Regions from separate parts of the Homo sapiens genome. Here region 2 is reported to be linked to region 1. Evidence: microRNA targets listed by miRTarBase, many of them from high-throughput screens and not tested one by one. Region 1 holds a microRNA gene; the other region holds the end of a gene's coding sequence.

The links. Region 1 holds the annotated microRNA hsa-miR-634 (AACCAGCACCCCAACUUUGGAC, at 1,971-1,992, opposite strand). A microRNA usually pairs through its seed, bases 2 to 8, with sites in the 3' UTR of a target mRNA and lowers its output. Matches are read on the target gene's strand: a 7mer-m8 pairs with bases 2 to 8, a 7mer-A1 pairs with bases 2 to 7 and ends in A, and an 8mer does both.
Region 2: miRTarBase lists ZNF223 as a target of hsa-miR-634. The part of its 3' UTR that is shown has no 7-base or 8-base seed match.

Annotation. Positions count from the first base shown.
Region 1 is chr17:66,784,723-66,789,123 of GRCh38, reverse strand. MIR634 (microRNA 634) reads right to left here and starts at 2,052; the gene lies at 1,956-2,052. It overlaps PRKCA (protein kinase C alpha), which reads right to left. Exons shown (of 17, transcript NM_002737.3): 15 at 2,150-2,257; 16 at 145-285.
Region 2 is chr19:44,066,581-44,070,981 of GRCh38, forward strand. It overlaps ZNF223 (zinc finger protein 223), which reads left to right. Exons shown (of 5, transcript NM_013361.6): 5 at 1-1,419. The coding sequence ends at 697. Among named protein-coding and RNA genes, the nearest start is that of ZNF284, 3.4 kb to the right of the region's middle.

The DNA.
Region 1 (4,401 bases):
GGACAAGGCTGAAACCTGGCCCGTTTCCTCACCCTGTACAAGCCAGGGGCACCGGCCTCCTCTCTCCAAGAAAAGAGGTGAGTGGGATACTCCCAGAATTTGGGGACATGGGGTTCCGAAAACAGGCTGCTTTTCTGGACTCACCACTTTGGGCTTGAATGGTGGCTGGATCTCCCTGTTCTCCAGTTTTTCCCAGTCGATCCTCCGGAAGAAGGCATGCTCTCTCACGTCCCTCTCCCCCTCAGGCCCACAGCCCAGCCGCTTGGCTGGGTGTTTGGTCATCAGCTAGAAAGGAAAAGGAGAAAAGGAGAACAATGGATGTCAAGGGCTTCCCACAGACAGCACCTTCCATTTGCCTAGCTCTGCCTACAGCCCTGACTTTGTGGACGCCTGGACAGCATCTCAGAGAGCTGACCAAGACACTCAGTGGCTTGTACGAAGTGAAGCCAACTCACAAAAATGACATTGGCAAGAATAGCCCTTCCTATGGTGGTTTTCAAGACAAGGGAACAAGGAAGCAATCTGAACCCATGGCCAAATGGAAGAAGAATTTAAACAGACATCTCACACGTTGTCTGTTTTGGAGACACCATGCTATACATGTATCTAGTAATAAAAAAAAAAGCATGCAATCACTAAAAATTGTGTGTGCTGAAAGCATCACAGTCTAGCATCACAGAGGATGCCATAATAAGCATCATATGTCTACGTATTGTCTGGGCCAAAATGTTATCAATCAAAGACTCATAGATTAGAAAAATAAATGCTATAACAAGGAAGGCGACTAGTTAATTCCGACTTGCCCACTGCAGGACACAGAGACAAACACTGTCTATGAACTCTCTGAAGGCAGAAGCCAGTTCCTCCCGATCTCAGTATCTCTTCCAAGTGCCTTGCTCTTGGATGACACGTGACAAATGCCTCACAAATGATCACACTCACCAGATACTGTTAAGGGTATATTGTACTCCATCTTACTAAGCCTGAAAATAGCTTTGTGATCTAACTCTTGACCATTCAAAACTAGACAAGTCATGACCAGCAACTCTATTCCTAGAGCATTTCCTCAACCAAAGTGTGTGCATATCTTCACCAAAACACATGCCCCAGAAGGTTCACAGCAGTTCTGTTTGTAACAGCCTCAAACCAAAGCAGGAACAATCCAAATAGCCACCAGAAGTAGAATGGATAAGGAAACGATGGTGTGTTCACACAGTGGAACACTGCACAGCAATATGACAGGAGGAACTATGGCCCCACACAGCAATGCAGACAAAATCCTCAATCACAATATTGAGTGAAAGCAGCCAGGCCAGGAGCAACACTGTAAGGTTCAGTTTGTGCAGAGTTCAAAACAGGCAAGACTAATCCATGCTGTCCAAAGTTGGGGGGCAGGTTATCTTGGGGCGGGGTAGTGACTGTAGATGGGACAGGAGAGGGCTTCCAGGGTGGTGGAAACATGGTTTCTTGAGCTGGGTGCAATTACATGGGTGGATTCATTTTGTGAAGATTCATTTATCAGCATATTGATGATTTGTGCCAATTGCTGTATGTATGCTATAGCTCAAGAAAAGTGTAGCAAAGAAAGAACTAAGTCACACCAAGTAAGACAGGAGACGAGAGCACATACTTTCTAAGGGACTCTGATGACATCTGGTAGTCCCCACCACAATTTTATGAAATGGATTAGAATGAAAAGTGCGGTACAGTCATTAGGTGACTGGGCCAGAGTCCCAGGAAGTATTGGGATTCCAATCCATTCTCTTGGCCTTCACTTTCGCCACTGTGCCCTGCCCAGTAGAATGGATAAGGAAACGATGGTGTGTTCACACAGTGGAACACTGCATAGCAATATGAAAGGAGGAACTAAATCCTCAATCACCATATTGAGTGAAAGCAGCCAGGCCAGGAGCAACACTACAAGGTTCGGTTTGTGCAGAGTTCAAAACAGGCCAAGACTAATCCATGCTGTCCAAAGTTGGGGTGCTGGTTATCTTGGGGCATGACACCAAGCCCCAACCCTCGATGGCCAAAATGCAGTGGTGTGGGTTTGTGGTGTTTCTGCCATCTCTCTTAGAAGTGTGGGGAAAGTATTTCTCCTACCAAAGCTCTTGGTCCATGATCACAAAAGGTATCCAAATCGACTTACTCCTTTGCAGACAGAAACAGCCTCCTTGGACAAGGATTTTGGATAGGAAACGTTGTGCTCCATGATAGACTGAAATAGCTCGTCTTCATCTTCACCATCAAATGGAGGCTGTTCCGGAAAAAAAGAAAGATGGGAAAGTATTTAGGCAGAGTAATTCATTCACATGGTGCCTGAAGAGCCAATTCAGCACCAAGGAACAGACCAGGTTTCTCAGCCCCACCACAGGCTGCACAGTTTGCTCAGCTAACTTGACGGTTTATTTGATCATCTTTAATGAGATTGACGGTTGTGTGTTTTTCATTTTTTCCCCTCTGTCTCGTTAATTATCTTGCCCTGGGCAACCCAAACAATCTTTAGGGAAAGTGTTTTTGAGTAATGTTTTTAATGATTTGCAAATAAATTATGATTAATCCATTAATCTTGTAATTATGTGCTAAAAATCTAATTACGATCAAGTTAGGTTACAGATGGCTTTGTGGTCAGAAGGTGGGGGTGGCCGGTAGAAAATGCCAACACTTTCATTTGGGGTGAAGGGGACTTGAGAACGTGGCCTAAGAGGATGTTCCCAGTAATTCACACTGGGCCTCTGACCCAACAAGCAGCTGCTCTGAGGGAGGGCCTTCCAGCTGCACAGCAGCAGTGATGGGACCTTAGCTTCCATTGGACTCCTCCCTCATCCGCTTTGACTGGGTTTACAGTTACCAGGCTGAGAGAGGAAGGCACGGTGGCCCCGTGGGACCTTGTGGCTTTAGAGTCAGGTGGATCTGGACCAGAATTCTAGCTCTACTAACTTCCCAGCTGGGTGTCCACAGGCAAATGACTTCGTTCTTTAAAACACAGTTCTCCAGGCCGGGCGCGGTGGCTCACGCCTGTAATCCCAGCACTTTGGGAGGCCGAGGCGGGCGGATCACAAGGGCAGGTGATCGAGACCATCCTGGCTAACATGGTGAAACCCCGTCTCTACTAAAAATACAAAAAATTAGCCGGGCATGGTGGCGAGCGCCTGTAGTCCCAGCTACTGGGGAGGCTGAGGCAGGAGAATGGCCTGAACCTGGGAGGCGGGGCTTGCAGTGAGCTGAGATTGCACCACTGCACTCCAGCCTGGGTGACAGAGCGAGACTCCGTCTCAAAAACAAAAACAAAAACACAGTTCTCCAACTTGTAAGATGGGGTTTCTGGGAGTAAAGTGCCTTGTATTTTATGTTGTACCCAATAAGCGCCGAATGAAGGCAACTTAGCAGTATTATTATTTAAGACAGAGCAACTCTCTTGGGAGGGGCCTTGAGCACCTTCTAGGAGGAAAGGCTGAGCTCACAATGCCCTTTGAACTTTTTCCTCCAGCATGTCTGTAGTCCTGAGGGATCCATCACTTCCCGGTCACTCTGGCGGGATGGCACAGGAGGAAAGCGTTCATGGGAAATTCCGTAATGCTCCCCCTTTGGCTGCGTAACCTTGAGCTTAGCGTCAGAAAGGCAGAGCAAGGACCAGCGCTTGTACAGAATCCTCTTGTTTAATCTTGAGATGTTCCTTTCTCGTGGGAAAGAGGAGTCAGTCACTTTGGCTGACACGGGCAGGTCACACAGTGATGGTGTTTGGCTTAATTTTGAACTGAATCCTCGATCACAGGTAACTTCGCAGTAGTCAGAAGGATGCCCTTCTTATCAAACATTTTCTCCCAAGTCAGAGGCAGCCGTTGAGCCAAGTAGGTCCCTCCCCTCAACCACCACCCACAAATCACCTCAACCTGTTCATCCAACACCCGAGACCTGACCTCAGTCCCCTGCCCAGTCCTGGACAGGAGCCACGTGCCCTGAGGGAAAGATGCCAAGTCTACAGAGAGCCCCAGTGGGAGGACAGAGAGAGGCCTGGGTGTCTGGTACCACTCAACATTTTTTGGTCTGGAAATACAAATAAATAGGCCTCTTTTTCTGTTGTAAGTGCTTGGTGTAAGGAAGGTTCAATTTGGTGGAAGCTGCAGGTGGGTGAAGAGAGCTAAAATGAGCCTGCCTGTGAGGGACTCAGAACAGGGCAGGGGCAGCTGGCCACAGCAACTTCCACCAGCAGGAGCAACATGGAGCCTGAGAGGCCCCCAGGGCAGCTTGGGGGGGCACCCACCAGGGGGTGCAGGCTGCCGACGGCCACCTGTGTCAGCAGGGACAGCTACCTGTGCCATCAGGGGGACGTGTGGCTTTCATCTGTAGAGGGCAGGGCAGGCAGGCAGTGGTGGGGGAGAGCTGTGACGGAGCTACAGT
Region 2 (4,401 bases), not on the chromosome of region 1:
CAAATTACACATGGGAGAGAAACATTATAATTGTGAGGCATGTGGGAGGGCCTTCATTCATGATTTCCAGCTTCAGAAACATCAGAGAATTCACACAGGGGAGAAGCCATTCAAATGTGAGATATGTAGTGTGAGCTTCCGTCTTAGGTCAAGTCTTAATAGGCATTGTGTGGTCCACACAGGAAAGAAACCAAACAGCACTGGGGAATATGGAAAAGGCTTCATTCGTAGGCTGGATTTGTGTAAGCATCAGACGATCCACACAGGAGAGAAACCATATAATTGTAAAGAATGTGGGAAGAGCTTCAGACGGTCCTCCTATCTTTTGATCCATCAGCGAGTCCACACTGGAGAAAAGCCATACAAATGTGACAAGTGTGGGAAGAGCTACATTACTAAGTCAGGTCTTGACTTGCACCATAGAGCCCACACAGGAGAGAGACCTTATAACTGTGATGACTGTGGGAAGAGCTTTAGACAGGCCTCAAGTATTTTGAATCATAAGAGACTCCATTGCCGAAAAAAACCATTCAAATGTGAGGATTGTGGAAAGAAGCTTGTATACCGGTCATACCGTAAAGACCAACAAAAAAACCACAGTGGAGAAAATCCATCCAAATGTGAAGACTGTGGGAAGCGCTACAAGAGGCGCTTGAATCTTGATATAATTTTATCATTATTTTTAAATGACACGTAAGTGTTGTACATATTTATGGGGTACAGTGTGATATTTAAATATATGTATATGATGTATAATGATCAAATCAGTGTAATTAGCACATTTATCACCTCAATTATCTCTTTTTTGTGTTGAGAAAATTAAAAATTCATTGTTCCAGCAGTTTGAAAATAAATTGTTGTCGATGATAGTCACCTTTAGTGCTGCAGAACAGCAGAACTTCTTCCTCTTATCTACCTGTACTTTTGCATCCATTAGCCAACCTTTGGCCATCCCACCTATCCCTTACCCTTCCCTGCCTCTAGAGCCACTGTTCTCACTACTTCTAAGAAATCAGCTTTTTAAGCTTCCCCATGTGATTGAGGACAGTTTGAAGTTAGTGTTTCAGCCATAGCTCAGCATACCCCAGTGGTCGTGGGACTGTCAGAGCAGAGAATGCTGCAGGGTTTCTAACAGAAGTTTGACAATTAGTTATTATTCAGGAGACAGGTCTTAGTATAAGAGTTTGTTCACACACTTTCAAAACACTAATGATGAACATGTCAAAATTGATGACCACTAGAATGTCAGCCACATGTGTCTTTGTATTTTTGCTGCATCCTTACATTGCTTGAGTCTGGAAGATTGAGGCTGCACTGACCTATGGTAGTGCTACTGCACTCCAGCCAGGGCAACAGAGTGAGACCCTGTCTCCAAAAAAAAAAATTAAATAAATACCTTTCTTTGTTTCTAGACAAGCATCTCTCTGTGTTTCTGGAATTTTTTTTTTGAGTGTACATACATAGTGTGTTACAATTATATTCTTATTTTCTTCAGCAGTGAATATTTGCTGGTATTTTTCTATTTTATAATTGTATGCATTATTTTTAGATTTCTCAGTGAACATCAGAAACCCCATCTCTACAAGAAATACAATAATTAGCCAGTTGTGTTGGTGTATGTCTGTAGTCCCAGCTGGAGACTACTGGAGAGGCTGAAGTGGGAGGATCGCTTCAACCCAGGAGGCAGATATATATACAAATGGAATAGAAGTGAGAGTCCATAAAGAAACCCATACATCTAAGGCCACTTGATTTTCAAGAAGGATCCAAGATTACTTTATGGAGACAGAATAGTCTCTTCGACCAATACTGCTGGGACACCTATACACAGACACACAACATAATGAAGTTAGATTGTACCTCACCCTACACTTAAAAGTTAACTCAAAATTCATCAGTGACCTAATGTAACAGCTAAACTATAAAAGTATTAGAAGAAAACATAGAAGTAAATCTTCCTGACTTTATTTGGAATGGATTCTTCAATGAAACAACATAAGCAAAAGCAAATATAAATACCTAAATGGGACCTAGGTTTTAAAAAATGCTGTGCATACATGGACATTGTCATGAACATGAAAAGACCATACAGCATGAGTTCTACTATCCAGATTATATAAAGAATTCTTACAACTCAATAACAGAAACCACTCAATTAAAAAAATGGGCAAAGGGCTGGGTGCAGTGTCATGCCTGTAATTCCAGCACTTTGGGAGGCTGAGGTGGGCAGTTTACTTGAGGCCAGGAGTTCAAGACCAGCCTGGCCAACATGGTGAAAGTCTGTCTTTACTAAAAATACAACTAGCTGGATGTGGTGGCCTCCTGGGCTCAAACCATCCTTCCACCTCAGCCTCTTGAGCAGCTGAGACTACAGGCGTGCACCACAGCCTCTGGTTAAGTTTTGTATTTTTTTATAGAGATGAGGTTCCTCCATGTTGCCCAGGCTGGTCTCGAACTACTGCACTCAAGTAATCTGCCCACCTCAGCCTCCCAAAGTGCTGGGATTACAGGCATGAGCCACTGCACTCAGCCTAAAAAAAAAAAATCCTAATTTTTATGGGTACACATATGGAGTATATATGTTGATACAGGCATACAATGCATAATAATCATATCAGGGTAAATGGGGTATCTGTTACCACAAGCATTTATCAGATTTTTGTGTGTGTTAGAAACAATCCGTACTCGTTTAGTTATTTCAAATGTACAATAAATTATTATTGACTGTAACTCTGTTGTGCTATCAAATACCAGATCTTATTCATTCTATCTAAGCATAGTTTTGTACCCACTAACCATCCCCACTTCCCTCACCACCAACCTTAACTTTCCCTCCCTCTGGTAACCAACATTCTGCTCTCTGTCTCCATGCATTCAATTGTTTTAATTTTTAGCTCCTACAAATAAGTGAGAAGATGTGAAGTTTGTCTTTCTGTGCCTGACTTATTTCACTGAATGTAATGTCCTTCCAATTCCATCCATATTGTTGCAAATAACAAAATCTCATTCTTTTTGTGGCTGAATAGTACTCCATTGTGTATATGTCCATTTCCTGTATCCATTCACCTGTTGATGCATACTTAGGTTGCTTCCAAATTTTGGTTATTGTGAATAGTGCTGCAATAAACATTGCAGGGGAGGGTGCAGATATCACTTTGATATAGTTTTAATTTTTTGAGGAACCTCCATACTGTTCTCCGCAGTGGTTCTACTAATTTACATTCCCACCAACAATGTGCGAGGATTCCCTCCTTCACTCCTTCCACATCCTCACCAACATTTGATATTGCCTGTCTTTTGAATAAAAGCTATTTTAACTGGAGTGGGATATCTCATGGTAGTTTTGATTTGTATTTATCTGATGATCTATGATGTAGAGCACCTTTTCATATACCTGTTTGCCATTTGTATGCCCTCTTTTGAGAAATGTCTATTCAGATATTTTGCTCATTTTAAAATTGATTTATTAAATTTTTTCCTATTTGGTTTGAGCTTCTTATATTCTGGTTATTAATCCCTTGTCAGATGGATAGTTTGCAAATATTTTCTCCTATTGTGTGGGTTGTCTCTTCACTTTGTTGATTGCTTCCTTTGCTGTGCAGAAGCTTCTTAACTTGACGTGATCCCATTTGTCCATTTTTGCTTTGGTTGTCTATGCTTTTGGGGTATTACTCAAGAAATCTTTGCCCAGACCAATGTCCTGGAACATTTCCCCAATGTTTTCTTGTAGTAGTTTCATAGTTCGAGGTTTTAGATTTAAGTCTTTAATCCATTTCGATTTTATTTTTGTATATGGTGAACAACAGGGTTGAAGTTTCATTCTTCTATATGTGGATATCATGTTTTTCTAGCACCATTTATTGAAGAGACTGTCCTTTTCCCAATATATATACTTAGCACCTTTGTTGAAAATGAGCTCACTGTAGGTGTAGAAATTTATTTCTGGATTTTCTAGTTTACGCAGCACTAAAAAGAATGTACTGTACATGAAGTGATTTCTAGGATATGTTGTTACATGACCATAGAAGAGTTAGAAACGTGCTTTCTTTTAAGTAATAATGGAAAATAAGAAATCTACACATACTGATACGGTTTGGCTGTGTCTCCACCCAAATCTCATCTTGAATTATAGCTCCCATAATTCCCACATATCATGAAAGGGACCTAGTAGGAGGTAATTGAATCATGGGAGTGGGTCTTTCCCATGCTGTTCTCGTGATAGCAAGGACAGATAGAGGAGTGACTTTGAATAGAATGGGAGGCAGGTTTGCCCTAAGCGATTTCCAGCTTGAGATTTCCTTAGTGATTTTGGGGGCCCAAGATATTTTCCTTTCACAATACTAAGCAGTTTAATTTCTCTTAAATGTGGCATTTCCACGTCTAAAGAATATTAATATGAAA